Linked DNA regions of Homo sapiens: all the other regions are linked to region 4. Evidence: fine-mapped expression QTL. A gene starts in region 4. Each other region holds a variant in brackets. All regions are shown on one strand. Distances are from middle to middle. Region 1 has its middle 41 kb from the start of SMIM38. Region 2 has its middle 15 kb from the start of MRGPRF. Region 3 has its middle 21 kb from the start of SMIM38. Region 4 holds the start of SMIM38 (small integral membrane protein 38).

Evidence for each region. PIP is the estimated chance that this variant, and not a neighbour inherited with it, causes the effect. A credible set is the group of variants that fine-mapping cannot tell apart.
Region 1: its variant is the best candidate, but not a certain one, in a credible set for the expression of SMIM38 in lymphoblastoid cells (GTEx, PIP 0.54).
Region 2: its variant is the best candidate, but not a certain one, in a credible set for the expression of SMIM38 in whole blood (TOPMed, PIP 0.56).
Region 3: its variant is the best candidate, but not a certain one, in a credible set for the expression of SMIM38 in prefrontal cortex (CommonMind, PIP 0.56).

The regions. Positions count from the first base shown.
Region 1 is chr11:69,194,528-69,199,671 of GRCh38, reverse strand. No RefSeq gene overlaps it. Among named protein-coding and RNA genes, the nearest start is that of SMIM38, 41 kb to the right of the region's middle. RefSeq lists an enhancer at 2,844-3,468. The variant G/C (reference allele first, on the strand shown) is at 2,564.
Region 2 is chr11:69,025,361-69,030,504 of GRCh38, reverse strand. No RefSeq gene overlaps it. Among named protein-coding and RNA genes, the nearest start is that of MRGPRF, 15 kb to the right of the region's middle. The variant T/C (reference allele first, on the strand shown) is at 2,399.
Region 3 is chr11:69,131,925-69,137,068 of GRCh38, reverse strand. No RefSeq gene overlaps it. Among named protein-coding and RNA genes, the nearest start is that of SMIM38, 21 kb to the left of the region's middle. RefSeq lists an enhancer at 949-998. The variant AAAAAAAAAAAAAAAG/G (reference allele first, on the strand shown) is at 2,539.
Region 4 is chr11:69,152,795-69,157,938 of GRCh38, reverse strand. It overlaps SMIM38 (small integral membrane protein 38), which reads right to left and starts at 2,004. Exons shown (of 3, transcript NM_001369201.2): 1 at 1,825-2,004; 2 at 1-765. The coding sequence starts at 92. All of the region lies in intron 2 of LOC338694 (a long non-coding RNA gene), which reads left to right. RefSeq lists silencers at 279-638, 3,884-4,178 and an enhancer at 1,523-2,450.

The DNA of each region.
Region 1 (5,144 bases), 42 kb before region 4:
CAAGTCTTGCTCGTATGAATCTTAATTAAACACAGCGAGGAAAGTTACTAAAGTTAGTTAATGAAAGGCAGGATTGGACAGGGGCTGTGAAGCAAGAGAGGATCTGTGCTGCTTGAATCTTGGGATAAAAATTAAAAGGCAGTGTTCCCCTGAAAGCATCACATGCTCACTATGGGGAAAGCCCCAAGGGAAACCACGCCTCCACACCCCAACCGTGAGGGGCCCTTGCCAAAGTCCTGAACGACAGAGCCCAGTTTCTCCCCTTCTCTCCAGGACCCAGCACAGGGCCCACCCAGAGCAAGTGCTTGGTTGTTACTTGGAAGAAGGGATGGAGACATGGAGGGATAGAAGGATGCAGTGATAGAGCAATGGTGAGATGGAGGGATGGAGAAATGAGAGACGGATGCATGGAGAGATAGGAGATGGATGGATGGATGGATGGATGGATGGATGGATGGGTGGGTGGATGGATGAATAAATGGAGGATCAATGAGTGGATGGATGGAGATATGGATGGATGATGGGTGGAGGGATGATACATGAATGGAGAGATGGAGGGATGGAGAGACTGCTGGAGGGATGGAAACATGGACGAATTAATGGAAGGACAACTGATGAATGGATGTATGGAGGGGTGGAGAGATGGATAGATGAGTGGATGGATGGATGAAGAGATAGAGAGATGGATGGATGGATAAATGGATAAATGAATAAAGGATAGATGAATGGATGGATGGAGAAGTGGATGGATAATAGGTGGATGGAAGGATGAAGAGATTGATGGATGAATGGAGGGATAGAGAGATTGATGGATGATGGATGGATGAAGGGGATGGATGAAGGGATGAATGGATTAGGAAGGGATGGAGAGACGGATGGATAGATGGAGAGATGGAAGGATGAAGGTATGGACAGCAAGCACACAAAGGTCACAAATTGCTCATTTGTGTCCTCTCCTTTGAGGAACATCTACAAGATAGGCTCACCCTATCTAAGCCTCAGCCCTGAGGAAGGCCAACCACAGTCAGCCGGCCATGTTGGTGGCCTTCTTCCCTAATGGCTCCCTCCTGTTCTGGTCTTTTGTAGACAGAGAACCTCCTTGCAATCAGACTCACACACAGCATCTAGCAGACGGCCAGTTCCCCACCTCTGGGCACGTCCTCCTTCCCTTGCCCGGAGAGCCCCCGTCTTATCCAGGCATTATCTGCTCTGTGCTTCACCAGCCCCTCTCCAGCCCAGAGCAAAGGCTGCTCAGGCTTCACCCTCTCCTGGCAGCTCCCGTCTGTTGCTGGAGATTGGTGTAGACATGACGCATGGGACACACCCTGACCAGTGAGGCACAGGGAAGACTGCTGAAACTGGGGGCTGCTCCCGGAAAAGGGTTTCTTGCTAACAGAGGGGAACACCACAGGGAAGTGCCCCTTCCCACTTGGATGTTGTCCCGTAGGGACGTGATGCTAGAAGAAGCTGCCACCATCTTGCAGCTGAGGAGTCACCCAGATCACTGATGTCATGAGTGCTTGGATGAAGCTGCCCTGGAGCCATCCTCATCCAGACTTATTGAATCCTTTCTGGTTGGGTTTCTGTGCTATGAGGTCAGGAGCACATATCTAGTGATGGGGTCTCACTATGTTGCCCAGGCTGGTCTCAAATTCTTGGCCTCAAGTGCTTCTCTCACCTCAGCCTCCCAAAACCTTGGGATCACAGGCATGAGCCACTGTGCACAGTCCCTGAGCAAGTATCCAAATGGCCCATCATTTCCCATCAACCCCAAGAAGTCAGCACTGATTAACATTCCTGAGTTAATGAGGAAACAAAGACTAGCAGAAGCTTCTGGACCCACCCTGCTCTACCTGCCAGAGAGCTCGACTGCTCCAGGGTACCCGGGGTGAGCCCAGCTCCATCTTCCCTGAGGCCACCCAGCCTGCGAGGTGCCAGCGATGTCCCTGTAACTATGGCTGGATGTTAAAGGCATAATACAAAGTGAAAGAAGCCACACTGAAGAGACTGCCAACTGCATGGGTCTATTGATGCGATTCTAGAAAAGGCAGAGCTATGAGGACCAAAAACGGATCCACCACTGGGGGGCTGGGGTGGGAGGACGCACGAGGGAGCTTTGGAGGTGATAGAAATCTTCCGTATCTTGATTACGAGGGTGTCTGTGACTACTTGCATTTGTCAAAATTCACCAAAGCATACACCTTGAAAGGATGGATGTTACCGCATGTAAATTATCCCTCCATTGGCCTGGCTTCCTAACATGCTCCCTTGGCTAGGTTGGGGTTTCTGGGGCCATGACCTGAGCATCCCAGGAAGAGCCAATCCCAGGAAAAGCTCATCCAGGGGACACTTTTCTTGATTAACGAATCTCTTCCCTAAAAATGAAATATTCGTGGAAGCCCAGAGCACAAAAAGGACCAAAGCAAAGACACCTTCTCCTCCAACCAAAGGCATCCTTGAAAAGTCCTGGGGTGCCCCGGACCATGTATGCTAGTCAAGGGCAGGTTCCACCCAACCAGAGAGGCTGGCAGAGTAGCCCCTCCAGCGGTGAGAGGACCCCCCC[G/C]GCCTGCTGGATCCATGAACCCAAGCATAGGAGGGGCCTAGGCCACTACCCGACACAAGAAGGGGGCTGTGCTGTGGAGATCACGCACAGGCAGGGGCCACCGGGAGTGGAAGGCACAGCACTGAGCCCGGAGCACCGTCAAAAGAGAGGCTTGGGCCCAATCAGTAGCTCCCCAGCAGCCTTCTGGAGAGGCGGCCACGCACACGGGCTTCCAGGACCCAAACCCCACCACTCCTCCTGCTCCGGCCGGGCCACCCTGGGCCCGTCCCTCTGCTGCTCTGCGCCTAGGTTCCCTCAGGTGTGAAATGGCAATGGTAACAGCACCTACCTCACTTGGCCTGTGCCTGTTAAACAGGATAACGAGCACAACCATCCAGGCGTTAACAACTCACTGAACACCCAGGCGGCTGTCCTCGCTGTCACCTCATGGCGAACAGGAGCTGGGGGTGAGCAAGGGGCCACGTGCACCCCCCACCAACCTCCCCCTTCAGCCCCAGCAGGCTCATCTGGTTTCTATCCGAGGTCTCCATGCGATTGGGCATGAAAGGAAAGCGCTGGTGCTCAATGAAGTTTGAAAACTCCGGTCTCTGTGGCCCCTCCGCCGGCCGCCTGGGACCCTGACCACCACTTGCCTCAGGCCTGGAAACAGGCCTAACGCTGTCCAGGCAAGCAGAATCAAAGGCCCTCTGTCGAGCGCACATTTTCCAAGCGCTTGGAGGGTCTGTGAGGTCCTGGGAGGTGGGGAGGACGCGAGGTTATAATTGGCCTCCCCTGGGCCAACAGTACTTCTTAAGAAGGCGCCGCACAAAGAGTGTCCAATTTCCCAACCCGGCAGACCGTGGGTTTAATTAAGGTCCATAAAAATGTAGCCGGCAAAGTGTAAGAGGTATTGCATCTTTCCCAGTCAATATGGGCATGTGTCTTACCTGGAAAAAGTGGTTTATGCAGAAAGAATTTCCCAAATGGGTTCCATATGCCTGCTTTCCCCCATAGCGGGGCCTTCCACCGGGGCCGGGGTTGGGGGCTGGGACATGGGCCCTCCTCCCAGCACGGCCTCCTCGCTCACCCTCTGCCGGCTGCCGCTGTTTAAACAGAAGACGTCATGGCGAGTGATATACGGTGGATTCCAAAGATTGTTTCATCCAGGGGAAATTGCTCCTGGAGCCAGCTCCATCCCAGGTAAGCCACAGAGACCTACTGTGAAGTGAACTGTTCACCCTCCCGCAGGCCCTGAAGCAGGAAGTGCTCCTCATGCCCACTGCTTACTGTCAGTTACTCCATGGCCCAACAAGGGCGCCAGCACAGGGCCAGGCACTCGGGACCCCAGAGATGGAAGGGACCACAGGGGTGTCTGGCTAGCGTTCCCCATCACACTTTCCAGATGGGACCACTGAGTTCCAGGGAGGGGACACAACTAGCCCGGGACAACGGATCTTGGAAGCCGTAAGAGTGGCATTGATTCGGGGTACCATGGAAGTCAAAAGGTAGTCAGGAGAGGCAGAGAGGAGAGAGGGGGAGCGAGAGGGCATCTTTAACGCCTGTTCCCAATGCTAGATGCAACCCCAGATGTCCTAGTTATCTGAGCCAATATAAATTCTCTGCCCCTCATGATGGTGGCTCCCCCCGTCTCTTCATCCACATGTCACCTCCTCCAAGGAGCCTACTGGGCTGCCCCACACTTCACACAACTCTCCAGCTCCTCCCTCTGAAATGTTACTTTGCTCATGGGTCGGTTAACTTACCCACTGGCTATTGCCATCAGTAGTACTGATTCTCAGGAGAGCAGGAACCATACTTGTCTTGTTCATTGTGGTATCCCCATGGCTGGGACAGATCTAAGCATATAACAAGTGCTAAATGATGACGATTTATTCATCATTATCACCACCATCACCATCACCACTATTGCCATATCATCATCATCACCATCGTCATCACAATCACTACCACCACCACTACCCCATCATCATCATCATCACCATCATCATCACCACTGCCACCACCATCATCACCATCACCACCATCACCATCATCATCATCACCATCATCACCATCACCACCATCACCATCACCATCATCATCACGACTGCCGATAGCATCATCATCACCATCACGGATCATCATCACCATCATCATCATGAGCAGTATCGCCATCATCACCACCACTGCCACCACCATCATCATCATCATCATCACCATCACCATCACCATCACCAGTATCACCATCATCATCACCATCATCACCATCACCAGTATCACTGTCATCACCACCACTGCCGCCTACCATAATCATCATCACCATCACCACCATCACCATCACCAGTATCACCATCATCATCACCACTGGCCACCACCATCATCATCACCATCACCACCATCACCATCACCAGTATCACCATCATCATCACCACTGCCACCACTACCATCATCACCATCACCATCACCATCATCATCATCATCATGACCATCATCATCATCATCACCACGTTTACCACCATCATTATCACCACCATCAACACTATCACCATCAACACCACCATTCTCCTCATACCATCATCATCATTATCACTACCACCACCAC
Region 2 (5,144 bases), 130 kb after region 4:
TCAGAAAGGAGTTTAAAAGAGAAAAGGAATTAAGAAATGAAGACTGAAACTAAAAGGAGTAGAAGGGCAAATGAGTACCACAAATAAAGCCTTAAGAGAAACAGACTAGGAAAAGCAGGCTGTTGAGGCTCATGTCTGCGGTCACAACTACTCGGGGACTGAGGAGGGAGGATCGCTTGAGCCCAGGAGTTCAAGTCCAACCTGCGCAAAACAAGACTCTTATCTAGAAAGAAGGGAAGGAAGGAAAGAAGGAAGGAAGGAAGGAAGGACGAGAGGGAGGGAGGGAGGGGAAGAAAGAGAGAGAGAAAAAAAGAAAGGAGGGAGGGAGGAAGAAAGGGAGGGAAGGGGGAAGAAAGAAGAAAGAAAGAAAGAAAGCAGAAAAAATTTTAAACCAAAAAGAAATGTTGAAGCCAAAAAAAAAAAAAGTCTAGAGAAAATTATAGCTATAGAAAATAGGCAAATAAGATTCAAGATACATACAATAGGAATCCCAGAAGAAAACCAAAGCAATGAAGCAGAACAAATAATAATTATAATTCAAGAAAATTTTTCTGAAATAATAAAATAAAATAAAAAATTTTTAAACTGAGTAAAGAACACCAATCAACAAAAGAAAACCAATCGACAATCCCCCCTGCCAAAAAAGAGGGGATTAAAGGTATCATATGAAGGTATTGGGGGAGGGTTGCCACAAGAATAAAAACACAAAGGTTCTCAACAACAAAATCTACACTAAACCAAGAAAGAGTAACGTGGCCCCGCCAGCACATCCCTCTAAGGCTGCAAGTCCTTGAATCCCCTTCTCTATAAGGTTCCTGGTAAGAGTTTAACAATGAGACGGGTTTTCTTTTTTTTTTTTCTTTGAGATGGAGTCTCGCTCTGTCTCCAGGCTGGAGTGCAATGGCGCGATCTCGGCACGATCTCTGCTCACTGCAATCTCTGCCTCCCAGGTTCAAGCAATTCTCCTGCCTCAGCCTCCTGAGTAGCTGGGATTACAGGCATGTGCCACCACGCCTGGCTAATTTTTGTATTTTTAGTAGAGGCTGGCTTTCACCATGTTGACCAGGATGGTCTCGATCTCTTGACCTTGTGATCTGCCCATCTCAGCCTCCCAAAGTGCTGGGATTACAGGCATGAGCCACCTCACCCAGCCTAGAGAGGTTTTCAAAAGACGTATAGTAGGCTGGGTGCAGTGGCTCACACCTGTAATCCCAGCACTTTAGGAAACAGAGGGAGGAGGGTTGCTTAAGGCCAGGAGCTCAAGACCAACCTGGGCAACATAGCGAGACCCTGTCTCTACCAGAAAAAAAAAAAAAAAAGAAATCATAAAAATAGCCAATTGTGGTAGCATAGGCCTGCCTGTAGTCCCAGCTACTCGGGAGGCTGAGGTGGGAGGATCATCTGAGCCCAGGAGTTGGAGGCTGCAATGAGCTACAATCACGCCACTCCAGTCAGCCTGGGCAACAGAGTGAGGCCCTATCTCTAAAAAAATATTTTTTTGGCCAGGCACAGTAGCTCATCCCTGTAATCCCAGCACTTTGAAAGGGTGAAGCAGGCAGATCACTTGAAACCAGGAGTTTGTGACCCAACCTGGCCAACACTGCAAAAACCTATCTCTACAAAAAACACAACAAATTAGCCGGGTGTTGTGCGTGCCTGTGGTCCCAGCTACTCGGGAGGCTGAGATGGGAGGATCGCTTGAGCCCAGAGGTTGAGGCTGCAGAGAGCCGTGATCATGCCACTGCACTGCACTCCAGCCTGGGTGACAGAGTGAGATCCTGTCTCAAAAAGAATTTTTTTTTTTTTTTTCTTGAGATGGAGTCTTGCTCTTTCACCCAGGCCGGACTGCAGTGGTGCTATCTGGGCTCGCTGCAATCTCCGCCTCCCAGGTTCACGCCATTCTCCTGCCTCAGCCTCCCGAGTAGCTGGGACTACAGGTGCCCGCCACTGCGCCCGGCTAATTTTTTGTATTTTTAGTAGAGATGGGGTTTCACTGTATTAGCCAGGATGGTCTCGATCTCCTGACCTTGTGATCTGCCCGCCTCGGCCTCCCAAAGTGCTGGGATTACAGGCGTGAGCCACCGTGCCTGGCCAAAAAGAAATTTTTTTAAACTAAAAAATTAAAAACCATATCCATCTGAGTTTGGAGAGGAAAGCAGGGCCACTCCATGCATTCCAGAGAAAAAGGGGCTTACTATAGAAATCAGTGCTTCCATAAATGCAGGAGGAGCTGGAGGGTGGGGCTGGGGAAGGTGTGGGAAGCTTGCTGCAGTCCTCATCAGCAATCACATGGGGTCAAGTGCCTGCAGAAGGCAAACAGGCAACGGTAGCTGTTGCAACAGAACGCGATGGTGAAATACAGAGTTTGCATCCTGTGAAGTTGGTGGCCTCCTCCTAT[T/C]GCACCGGAGAATTTGCTGGGGGAAAAAAATAGGAGCTCAGGGTTTTAAATATCCAGTTCAAGACCTAAAGTACCAGAAACCCTCCACTGGTGCTTGAAAAGAAGTCCATATCTCTTGTAGCCACAGAGTTGAGAGATCAAAAAAATAAACAAATCCAAACTCTGATCCCCTGGGTGGCAAAATAGAATCAAGTTCAACTACTACACTTGAACTCAGGGCCGCAAGTTTCTCTTCTGTGAAAGTCAGGGCACTGACGGGGAAAGAGTGGATCCCTGAATGGTGGAACGGATTCCATTTGGGAAGATTCTAATCCTAGGGTAGACTCTTCCTCAAGAGCCCCTACCACCTCCAGCTTCTAGATCGAAATCCCGGTGAGCTCCAGGAATGTGGCCACAAAATCTGACCCAGGAAGATGTACTATACACAACAAAAGAATTGCAAGCTATTTCCGGTTCATACTGGCAGAAACCTAGGAAATCTGTAGGGGAACAAACCCTAAGGGTGTCAGACCGGCGGGGTGGGGGAAGAAAGTAATGCCGGGTCAGGCTTAATTATTTTGATATGGTGCACTCACCAGAGATTCTGAGCTCCACGTGTCCACTCAGCACCTGGGAGTGGCTCTCAGAGTTGGCCCATTCCATCAACTGAAACCTGGAGCAGTGGTGACCCATGTTTTTATTTATTTATTTATTTGAGACAGAGTTTCACTCTTGTTGCCCAGGCTGGAGTGCAATGGCACGATCTCTGCTCACTGCAACCTCTTACTCCTGGGTTCAAGCGATTCTCCTGCCTCAGCCTCCTGAGTAGCTAGAATTACAGGCACCCGCCACCATGCCCAGCTAATTTTTGTATTTTCAGTAGAGGCAGGGCTTCACCCAGTTGGCCAGGCTGGTCTCGACCTCCTGACCTCAAGTGATCCACCTGCCTCGGCCTCCCAAGTGCTGGGATTACAGGCATGAGCCACCATGCCAGGCCTTGTTTTGTTTTTTGTTTTTTTTTTTGAGATGGAGTCTTGCTCTGTCACCCAGGTTGGAGTGCAGTGGCACAATCTCAGCTCACTGCAACCTCCATCTCCCGGGTTCCAGCAATTCTTCTGCCTCAGCCTCCCAAGTAGCTGGGACTACAGGTGCCTGCCACCACGCCTGGCTAATTTTTGTATTTTTAGTAGAGATGAGGTTTCACTATGTTGGCCAGGCTGTTCTCAAACTTCTGAGCTCAAGTGATCCACCCACCTCCATTCCCAAAGTGCTAGGATTACAGGCATGAGCCACTGCACCCAGCCCAGTGGTGACCCATTTTAAATGAAGATGGGATTCCAGGACTTCTTTGGAATTCCGTGGAGCAGAGTTTTTCTACTTCAGCACTATTGATATTTGAGGCCAGATGGCTCTTTGCTGTTGGGGGAGGTTGTGGGGACCTTAGCAGTATCCCTTGCCCACTCAATGCTAGAAACGTACCCCTCCCAGCCATAACAACCAAAGATGCCTCTGGACATTGCTAAGTGTCCCCATGGGGGGCAAAATCTCCCCTGATTGAGAGCCACTGCAGTAGAGAAAGGTGTCCAAAGAGTAGGGCCAAGCACAGTGGCTCACACCCAGAATCCCAGCACTTGGGAGGCCAAGACAGATGGATCACTTGAGCACAGGAGTTTGAGACCAGCCTGGGCAACAAGGTGAAGCCTCATCTCTACAAAAAAATGGAACAAATTAGCCAGGTGTGGTGGTGCGCACCTGTGGTCCCAGCTACTCAGGAGGCCTGAGCCCAGGAGGATGAGGCTGCAGTGAGCTGTGATCACACCACTGCACTCCAGCCTGGATGACAGAGAGAGACCCTGTCTCGAAAAACAAACAAACAAACAAAACCAAAACAGAAAAAAAAAAACCCAGAGTTAAGGAGAGGAATACTGGAGTGAATGTATCATGTACAGTCTACTCTGTTGTTTTTTTTTTTTTTTTTTTTTGAGATGGAGTCTAGCCCTGTCACCCAGGCTGGTGTGCAGTGGCGCAATCTCGACCCACTGCAACCTCCACCTCCTGGGTTCAAGCAATTCTCCTGTCTCAGCCTCCCAAGTAGCTGGGACTACAGGCTCCTGCCACCACGTCCGGCTAATTTTTTAAATTTTTAGTAGAGACAGGGTTTCACCATATTGGTCAGGCTGCTCTTGAACTCCTGACCTCAGGTGATCCACCTGCCTCGGCCTCCCAAAGTGCTGGGATTACAGGCGTGAGCCACTGCGCCCAGCCGCAATCTACTCTTTCATCCCCTAACTAGGCCCTCAGGAGGGCCCCTCACCCAAGCATTGAGAAAGACACTGGGTCAGGAACATCAGCATGTTTGAAGAGTTTGTAGTGGCTGCTCTCTGCAGGCTAGGAGTGACAGTGGGAGATGCTGCCATTGAAATGGGCTTCCTGAATTCAGTGAGGATGGTGGAATCCCAAAGTGGCGGGGCCAAGGGACAGTTCACCACGCAGACAGGGAGGGTGTCGTTACATCACAGAGAACTGGATTAATAATCAGAATGGCTTGACCCCCCACCCCCACCCCAGAGTTCCCTGGCAGTGGTTAACTCACCATGAAGAACCTAGGACTGAAACAGTTGGTTTTACCATGTAAAATTGCCAATGTTCAACCATTTTCTTTCTTTTCTTTTTTTTTTTGTTTTTTTGTTTTTTTGTTTTTTGTTGTTTTTTTTTTTTTGAGATGGAATCTTGCTCTATCACCCAGGCTGAAGTGCAGTGGCACGAT
Region 3 (5,144 bases), 21 kb after region 4:
ACATCCTACAACATACAGGACAGCCTCCACAAAGAATTACCCTGTCCAAAATGTGGATAGTGCCACCACAGTGGAGAAACCCCAGCTTGGAGGGATTGGTGAGGCTGCAGGTGGAGAGGCTGCAGCACCAAGCCTGGCAGCTGGACAGTCCCTGACAAAGGTGTGTTCCCTTCTCCAGCCATTCTTGAGGCCCTTGCTGAGACCAGGGGACCCTGAGCCCTGCAGGAACCCAGGCCATTGATGTATACACAGCCTCTCTGCCTGTCCACCAAGGTCCCAGGGCAGGGCCGTGTCGGTGGAACCCACGGCCAGCTCACGGACAGGAGGAAAGCAGGCCAGGCCTGTTCCTCACCTCTGCTGGTCCTGGGTTTCTCGAACTCCCATCAGGACTCAGGGTCTCCCCTCCCACAAGGTCCCAGCAAGGCTGCATGCAGCCTGCACTCACCCATCAGTCCTCGCTCCTGCCGCACCTCCCCGGCCGCCAGTGCCATCCAGGCCTCCCCAACTGAGGGGCAGGATCTTCCTTCCAAAGTTGGGCAGTCCCAGGCAAGTGTCCTCCCTCTCTGGGTCTTGGTTCCCCACATAATGGGAATCAAAATAACTGCAGCCCCAGGTCACGGCATGGGCTTGGGGTGGGACCTGAGTGTCCCTCCTCAAACACAGAAGCTTCCTTCTGACCACCAGCGCTGCTCTCTGTGAGATCACATTAGTTTGTTCTCATGCTGCTAATAAAGACATACCTGGGACTGGGTAATTTTTAAAGGAAAGAAGTTTAATTGACTCACAGTTGCACATGGCCAGGGAGGCCTCACAATCATGGCAGAAGGCAAAGGAGAAGCAAGACACATCTTCCATGGGGGCAGGCAAGAGAGAGCATGTGCCGGGGAACTCCCCTTTATAAAACCATCAGATCTCATGAGACTTATTCACTACCACAAGAACAGTACAGGGGAAACCACCCCCGTGATTCAATGATCTCCACCTGGCCCCACTCCTGACATGTGGGGATCATTACAATTCAAGGCAAGATTTGGGTGGGGACACAGCCCAATCATATCAGGGATCCTAACCCCGGAGAAAACAAAGGGTCAAGCACTGCTTTTTCTGCATTGCATTCACTGTGGGCTTCAGACACAGCAGAGTCAGGAGGACTCCTGTCCTTTGACCTGAGGCCAAGAGCCTGCTCTGACCCCTTGTCACCCTTCCCAACTGTGCCCAGGTCAGAAGTCTGTGCCCAGGCCTGCTCCTCCTGGAGGCCCCTCATCCCCAGTAAGAGCCCGCCACGGACTAGACATGTTGGGCTACACGGGCCCTGCACCAGGGCAGTCATCATCTTTACCAGCACAAAAACTCCCTCGATGACAGGGCCTCAGCAGGCCCCAGCCTTGACCCTGGCTTTCACGGTCCATTGGGTTTTGTTATAATTTACAATTTCCACTAGATGGATGGTTCCAAGTTCATTCACTTGTGCCACAAACATTTATGGGACCACCTACTGAGTACCGGGTGCTGTGGACGGGGATGTATGTGACTCACAACTTCATCGGGGCATGGAGAGTCTGTCCACCACCGTCAGGAGCATCGTGAGGAGTTGATGCTGTTCTGGGGACTCCACGTGAGAGCCTCCTGGGTCACTGAGGGAAGAGACACAAAACACAAGAAATTTGCAACCCGGAGGAGACCCACTGTCCAGGAGGGGGACCGGCAGCACCCTCACCCTGAAATAAGCTCCTGCCAATGACATTGGTTAAATCACACCCAGGTTCCCGCGTGGATGCAGATTTAGGCGGCCTGACGTGGTGAGACCTGACCTGGGAAAGTTACATGGCATCGAGGGATCGATTCCCAGTTCTGCCACTCACACTGTTCCACCTTAGACAAATAACTCACTCCCCCCACCCTGAGAAATGGGGCCAGGAACCTGCTGGCGGGTGAGGAGAGTGGGTAGAGTCTGATAAAAATGTTTGTGTTTGGGCTGGGTGGCTCAGCCCACACACAGATAGGGAAGGTGCCTCCAGGCTGGACAGAGAGGAGGAGGAGAACTCCTGGGTCACAGGCAAGCAGCAGCTGCCCGGGGCTGGAAAGGACAGCAGTGGTGGCTCATCCAGCAACTGCATTTTCTAAGCAGTGGGCAGGATCCAGCCTTGGGGTCCCCTAGACAAGGTCACTGATATGGTTTGGCTCTGTATTCCCATCCAAATCTCATGTTGAATTATAATTCCCAGTGCTGAAAGAAAGGCCTGGTGAGGCCAGGCGTGGTGGCTCACACCTGTAACCCCAGCACTTTGGGAGGCTGAGGTGGGCAGATCAGGAGGTCAGAAGATCGAGGCCATCCTGGCTAACACAGCAAAACCCCATCCCTACTAAAAGTACAAAAAATTAGCCAGGTGTGGTGGCACGTGCCTGTAGTCACAGCTACTCAAGAGGCTAAGGCAGGAGAATCACTTGAACCCAGGAGGCGGAGGTTGCAGTGAGCCAAGATTGCACCACTGCACTCCAGCCTGGGCAACAGAGCGAAACTCTGTCTCAAAAAAAAAA[AAAAAAAAAAAAAAAG/G]AAAGAAAAAGAAAAAGAAAGGCCTGGTGGGAGGTGACTGGGTCATGGGGGTGGATTTCCTCCTTGCTTTTCTGGTCATAGTGAGTGAGTTCTCACTATGAGTGAGATCCAGTTGTTTAAAAGTGTGTGGCTCTTCCCTCTGTTTTCTCTTCCCCTTTCTCCAGCCATGTAAGACATGTCTGCTTCCCCTTCGCCTTCTGCCATGATTGTAAGTTTCCTGAGGCCTCCCCAGCCATGCTTCCTGTACAGCCTGTGGAATGGTGAGCAAGTTAAACCTCTTTTCTTTATAAATTACCCAATCTCAGGTATTTCCTTATAGCAATGTGCAAATGAACTAATACAGTCACCCTGCAGTTCTGAGGACAAACAGTTGGGCAAAGGCTGACACCAGCACCAAAACCCGCAGGGTGGCCCAACAGCTTCACATCTGTTGTTCACAGGTGGCAAAGAAGACTTGGCCAAGCCAGCTGCCCAGGTGGACAAAGGCAACTGTGACAGGGAAAGCCTGGCCAGCTGCTGGTGGCCACAGGACGTGGGCACTGCAGGGCACTGTAGACAAAAGTGAATTCACACCAAAGGGTCACAGACCTAAATGTAAAACCTACAACTACAAGCCTGGAAGAAAACAGAGCAGAAGTTCTGCAACTTTGAGACAGGCATGAATTCTTAGGTAGGACTCAAAAAGCACAAAGTATAAAAGAACAAAATCATAAATTAGACCTCATCAAAACAGAAATTTCTCCTCAAAAGACACTGCTAATAAAATGAAAAGACAAGCCACAGGCTACGAGACAATATTTCCAAATTGTGTACATTATAAATATCTCTCATCTAGAACATAGAAGAACTCTTACAACTCAGTCATAAGAAAAACAACGCCTATTTTTTAAATACACAAAATTTGAACTGACACTTCACCAAAGATGAAAACAGACAGCAAATAAGCAACTGGATGGCAAACTGAAAAGATGTTCAACAACATTAGAGAGTCAGGAAAGGCAAATTAAAACCACCATACACTTACTAAAGTGGCTAAAATTTAAAACTGACAATACCAAGTGTTGACAAAGATGTGGAGCAACTGGAACTCTCATACCTTGCTGTTGGGAACGTAACACGATGCAGCCATGTCAGGAAAGAGTTTGGCAGTTTCTTATACAGTTAAATGTACACTTAACATACAATCCAGTGATAATCCCACTTCTGGCATGTGCCCAGAAGAAAACATATGTGCACCCAAAGACCCGGATACAAATGTTTGCAGCAGCTTTATTCATAGCAGCCACAAGTGGAAACAACTCAAATGTCCATTAACTGGTATGTGGGAAAGCAAGCTGTGGCATATTCATACAACCCAGCCTTCGTGCAATGGTCACACAATATTCAACAGTAAAAAGGAACTATCTACAGATACACACAACAACATGGGTGAATCTCAAATGCATATGGCAAGTGATAGAGTCACAGGCAGAGAGCTGCACAATGCACACTTCCATTTCTATGACATGCTGGAAAACCACAGGAATAAAAACCAGGTCATTGGTTTCTAGGGGCTGGGGTGGGGGCAGGCGTTGACGGCCAAGGGGCAGCATTGAGGGACTTCTGGGAGACAGCGCTGTACTATGCCTGGACTACAGTGGTCGTTGCACGATTGTGTCTTTGTCAGAAGTCACCAAACTGTAAAAAGAGCCACTTTTGCTGTGTGCTAATTATGGCTCAATAACACTCCACCCAAAAAAAAAAAAAATCACTTCACTCTCCTCATCATTGAAAGTAATGACATTGAAGGAAGAGGAGCAACACTCTTTACGTGGCAGAAATGGTGCTGAACAACCAAGGAGCTGCATTCCCTGTGGTCAGGTACCCAGGGGGCCCTGGGTTCTCTCCATTTTACAGATGAGTAAACGGAGGTCTGGAGGTGCCAGGTCACCCAGTGCCACCCAGGGAGGCTGGAATGGAGTTGGGACTTCCACCCAGGCCTGACTGCAGCATCACCCCCCAAACCACTAAGGCTGTCCTGAGAGAGACCTTGGGGATCAGCAAGCCAGCCTCCTCCTCCCGTTTTCCGGAGGAAAGCATGAGGCTTCAGGGGGCCCGACCCATCCAGGCTCACGAAGAGAGGGACAGAATCAGAATCTGGAGGGAGCCAGGTCTCATTTGTCAGCAAACGCCTTCCTACGACAACCTTGGGAATAGAAAAGACCCCAAGACATGACAGGAACGAGATCCGAGGCCACGTGCAACACAGGTGCACCAGGGTAAGCCCCGCCCCTACCCTCAGGGAGCTTCCAGCCCCATCTGGCACAAGGTCACCTCCCAGACCCTGGGCAAGTGGCAGCCCAGACACACCCAGGAGTACAAACACCTCTCCACAGTCCCCTCCTGGGACACTGGGCCCCTGAGGATGATGGAAGCTGCGGGTTCCCCATGGGGGCTCTGGGGTTACAGCAGGGAGGGAGGGGGACCCATGACATGCCTTAGGCCTGTCCAGGAGGGATTCCAGCCCCAGGGAGAAGGCAAAGACAGGAACGCCGTTTCCAAGCCGGAGAAGCAGTGAGAGTCCACACCGCGTTTCCCGGTCTGCAGGGAAA
Region 4 (5,144 bases):
CAGGACCACAGGATGAGGCGTGCTAGCAGGATCACCACCAGCAGGGCCAGGAGCGGGTCAGGGCCAAAGCTGCCACCTGGCCAGGAGGTCATGCCTGAAGTCAGCCCCAAAGGGCAGCAGCAGCCTCTGCCCTGGAACCGAGATGCAGTGGGGCCCTGCCACCCTAGCCCGGCACTGCCAAGTGGCTGCTGTGCAGACCCAGGACAGGAAGCTCCGTCCAGCCTGGGGCCTCTGCAGCCGGCGCCCCCAAGGGACCGCCCTGTTCTCTCTGGTGCCACCAAGCAGGCCAGATCTGCCCGCCAGACTCCAGCCCGGGGCCTCCCTGGCATGTGAGAGGACAGACTGGGGACGACGAGCAGCCTCCTTGGTCAAGAGGCCCGTGTACCATTCATCCAGAATTAACCACTCTCCGTGCTGACAATGACAGCATTGTCCAGGGGCCTGGGGGGCGGGAGGCCGCCGGGAGCCCGCCCCCCTCGCTGTCCCCGCGCCCCCTGCTCGCCAGCGCTGACGTAATCTGCAAACATCCCCGGCGGCAGCTGCTGGGCGAAGCGGCCACCTCCTCCCGACGCTTTCAGCAGCCCACGCGGCTCTTCCGGCCCCGCCAGACAATTGGGCCCTTTCTCTCCCCAATTAGCTATCACTTCTGGAGGCCGCGCCGTCCAGCGCCGGCCCACGGTCTCCGCAGCAGCAGGCCCGGGATGGGGCGGGGGCCGGGAAGCTTGGCAGGGAGGCTGGGGCCACCACGGGGAAGAAGGACGGAGCCTGAGGATGAAAAGCCAAGGAGAAAAGGGGAGAAGATGAGGACAGGCGGCCACAGCCCACAGGCGGCCCCAAACACAGCTCAGCAGCACAAGGACCGCGCTCTGGGCCTCTGATGGCAAGGGGGTCAGCGCGGGAAACCGGCTTCATCCCCCAGGAAGGGGACCGGTGGACCCCCAGCAGCACCTCCCTCCAGCTCGCCCCTCCAACCTCCATCAAGAAGCCTTAGGTGGGACCTGTAGCCCTAAGCTGGGGCGCACAGGCCTGCAGGGTCCCCTGACATCCTCACAGTCACCCTGGACCGGAGGCCAGTCCTGCCTTCTACTAGCTGAGTGACCTCGGGCAAGTTGTGCAACCTCTCAGAGCCGCAGATCCTGCCTTAGAAAGTGAAGCAAATACCTCCTGCTTTGAAGGATTAGGGGAGAGAGCACTTCTCAGGGGCCACGCCCAGCGCCTGGGCACAGAGATCCTGGCCCCTGCCTCTCAGTGGATGCCTTCAGAAAGGCCTCCACATCTTTTCTGAAATAACAGTGTCTGCCCAGCCTTCTCTGACTGCCACACGCGCGCACACACACACACACACACGCATACACATGTATACATGTGTGTGCACACAGACTCACACGTGTGCACACCCAATAAGGACACATTGACCTCTACAGGCTCTGCCCCCCAAGTCCAGCTCTGGCCTCTCACAGCCGAGTTTCTGTGAGTGAGAGATAAACCGCCAGAACTGCCCCCTCTAACTCCAAGCCTACATCCTGTAAAGCAAAGGGGCCCCAGTTGGAGCTAGGGGGCTGAGCGTGAGGAACAGAGGTCTCTGGCGGCTGGGTCCTGGGAGTCCGGCCAGTTCTCACCAGCAAATGTCCAGCCTGAGCTACAGAGAACAGCAATGGGGGCCTTCCTGGCCACAGGGATCTGGGGCCCATCGCTGGTCGCCGGAAGCCAGCTCTTCAGTTCCTTCCCAGTCTACAAAATGAGTGTCCTCCCTGCCAAGCCTTTCCAGAAGGTTCAAACGGGACCACACGTTCAAACGGGAAGTGGAGCATGATGCCAACTCACCTTGGGCCGGGCACCGCCTAAGCTGCCTTCCCGCAGCCACCCTGGAGCCCCTGCCTGGACTGGCAGAGGCTGTCTGGGAAGCATGCCTGGCCCTTCCTCCATCTGTGGTGTGCCCTGCACCCACTGGGCTGCCTGGCACTGCTGTCAAAGGCCACTCACTTAGGGAACGTTGAGCTCTGGGCTTGTTTTCCACGCGCAGCGGTTTGAAGATCACTTCGAACGTGGGTGGGGAGTTAGCTCTCTGGACCCCGTCATAGAGTAAGTCATCGATAGAGCATTTGCTTGATGGGGACTTCCAGAAGGCCAGGGAAAGTCCTGCCGACTTCCTGGGGAAGCCCATCCGCACGTGGGGTGAGGGTCCCCAGATGGGAGCAGCTGTGTATGCAGGGAGGGGGCAGAGGCTGCTGCCAATGGGCATGTCCCTTACCTGAAAGGGCCACCTCTCCAGGTGACATGTCCTGGGGGAGCCGGGGCCGTCTGCTCCGGCCAGAGGCGCTCAGCTCAGGCCACACCAGGCAGGGCACCTCCCAACCTGGACAGGTGGGGACCAAGGTGGCCTTGGACAAAACTCTCTGTGTTTGCCAAGCACCCAATCGGACACAGAGAGTCAACCACACCCCAGTCACATGGTGTCCACACGCAGGGGTCAAGGAGGCCCGGCCCCTCCCCCTCAGACGTCCCTGGGCCTCTGGGAGTCAGCAAGGACGAGGACGGCATGCCCTTCGAGACAGGAAGGGAGTGACCTCCTCCCAGCGGCATCCAGGCTCGGCTTCTCCGGAGAGGAGAGGGGGCTACTTGCTGGATAAAGCGGCCGGGGCCACAGAGAAAAAGCAAGTGACCATGAGCACGTTGCAGACACAGTGCACCGACAGCATTGCAGCACGGGGACTGTGAGACCTCCCATTCTCGGGGGAAACTCCCCAAGTCCCCCCACCATCAGCAGTGATGTGACTGGGGCGGCGACCTGTGCTGGGAGCCTCCACCAGCTCCTGCGCCTCAGGCCCTGCTGCCCTGCACCTTCGCTTCCAGTAGGACCCTTCTCCAGGGCATTCTGGGCCACAGGAGCCACCCCAGTGCACAGAGACCCGAAGGCCCAGGAAGTTCCCTCCCCCAGGCAGCCCTTAACCTAAGGCTGACCTGGGCAGGACGTAGCCCAGCTTCCCTGCTTTGGACCAGGACAAACTAGAGGCCACTCTGAACCCCCAGAGCTCCCCCTGAAAATCCCAGGGACGTGCGGCTGTGCCTGGAGTCGCCCCCTTCCCAGACTGCTCCCCTTCATCTTGCCCTCCCTGCTCCTCCCTCCTGTGTCTCCCCATCACACCACCCCCCGAGTTACCCGCCTGTGAATATAATCCAGGATAAGAGTGACGAGCGCCTCATCAGCGCAGACCCAGACCCCGCCAATGGGAACGCATGGAGCTGGGCGGTGGTGGCTCCCAGCCCCGGGCCTCTGAGGATGGATCCGGGGATGCTCCCAGCCCCGGGCCTCTGAGGATGGATCCGGGGATGCTCCCAGCCCCGGGCCTCTGAGGATGGATCTGGGGATGCAAGTTGCCATCGGGACCTCAAAGAGCCAAGGCATCTTCCTGCACCCAAATGTTCAACGCTGACAGAGCAGTGAGTGACGCACCCTCACTCACTGTTTCCTGATGAAATGCTTGGCAGAGGAAACCTCTCCACAGGTGAGCTCCGTGGGGAAGGCCTGGAGTGGAAGTAACAAGGAGGTGCAAGTTCTTGCCCCCAAAGCCTGGTCCCCGCCCAGGACCAGCCCTCAGTACAGGTGACAGCCTGGGACAGAGCCCCAAGAACCTTGTGAACAGCTTCCTGTGAGCCCCAGGCAAGCTGGTCTCCACTGAAGCATCACTGGGCCTCAGTTTCCTCCCCTCAATAAAAGGGGAAAATAATCCTAGCACTTTGGGAGGCCGACGTGAGAAGGTTCAGGAGTTCGAGGCCAACCTGGGCAACATGACAAAACCCCATCTCTACAAAAAAAAAAAAAATACAAAAATTAGCTGGATGTGGTGGTGCACACTCGTTGTCCCACCTAGCTAGGAGGCTGAGGCAGGAGGATCACTTGAACCTGGGAGGCAGAGGTTGCAGTGAGCCATGATCAAGCTACTGTACTCCAGCCTGGGCAACACCTTATCTCAAAAAAAAAAAAAAAAAAAAAAAACGGTGAGGGGATGATAATCCCTTCCCAGCTTCTGCAAGCAAGGCTGGGGATAAGAGTGCTTTGCAGGGGAAATCCCCGCCCAAATGTCATCGAGATGAGCTGGACTTGGCTGACTCAAATGCAGGACCCAGGAATAATACTGAACGCCCTCCCCCAGGGACCACCAGGCACATCCCCCAGGGCCTCAGTGTGTTGGTTGGTTTTGTTATTTTCATAGCACCAACATCCTCTGAACTCTTCCATGTGTTTCTAGAACTCGAGCTCTCGCCGAATCCCCCAGGACTTAGCACAGTTCCAGGCACCCAGAAGACTCTCAGCAAGGACGGCCACGTGCATTGGAGCTGGGAGGCCAAATTAAAAGAAGCACGTGTTTTCCTTAGAACAGATTCCGCCAAAATTGTAAAACCACCACCTACAGCCTTGTTGACAGTGAGACATTCTCAGACATGTCAGGGTCCTGTTGAAAATCATTTTTTTCTTTGTTTCTTTTTGCAACAGCAAAATATGCTTGCTTTAACCAAAAAAAAAAAAAAAAGCAACCATGGCAGAGATGGGTGAGTTGGGAGAGCATGAACATCATCAACTCTTACTCCTGCCAAGACGGAGCACAGGACATGAGGACCCCGTCCAGGGCCCACGGGGAGCCTGAGTTCCCACCCCACGAAGGCCTGTGGCCCATCACCTCTTCCCCTGAGAATGCTGCATCTCAAAACCCCAGCCGGCGCAGGCTGCCGAAATCAACAGAACATGCATTTCAAACCGGGTTTCCACTGAAATGCTCCCTACACACAGACGGGCGAAAATTAATTTTCTTTCTTCCTGCGCCACAAAAGCAGATTAAAATCACGAACAGTGGGACGAGTGGGGGGAAGTGGAGGGCTTCCTCATTGAGGGAGACCCCTGCCCGGGAGGTTTCTCTCCCTAACAAGGGATGGCCTCAGCCGTTTGAAACGCCCTGCTGCAGGCATAAAGCCCGACCCAGGAGAAGGCACTTGAGAAAAAGGACGCCGCTGCCCTCCCAACGGTTGAAAGCTGGTATGTAACTTTGCTCGGGGTGATCAAACAGCTAGTCAAGGACGCTGTCAGGAACAGAATGAAATTCCAAATAAATTAGCCATGTCCAGAAGCCAATACAACACCGGATTAA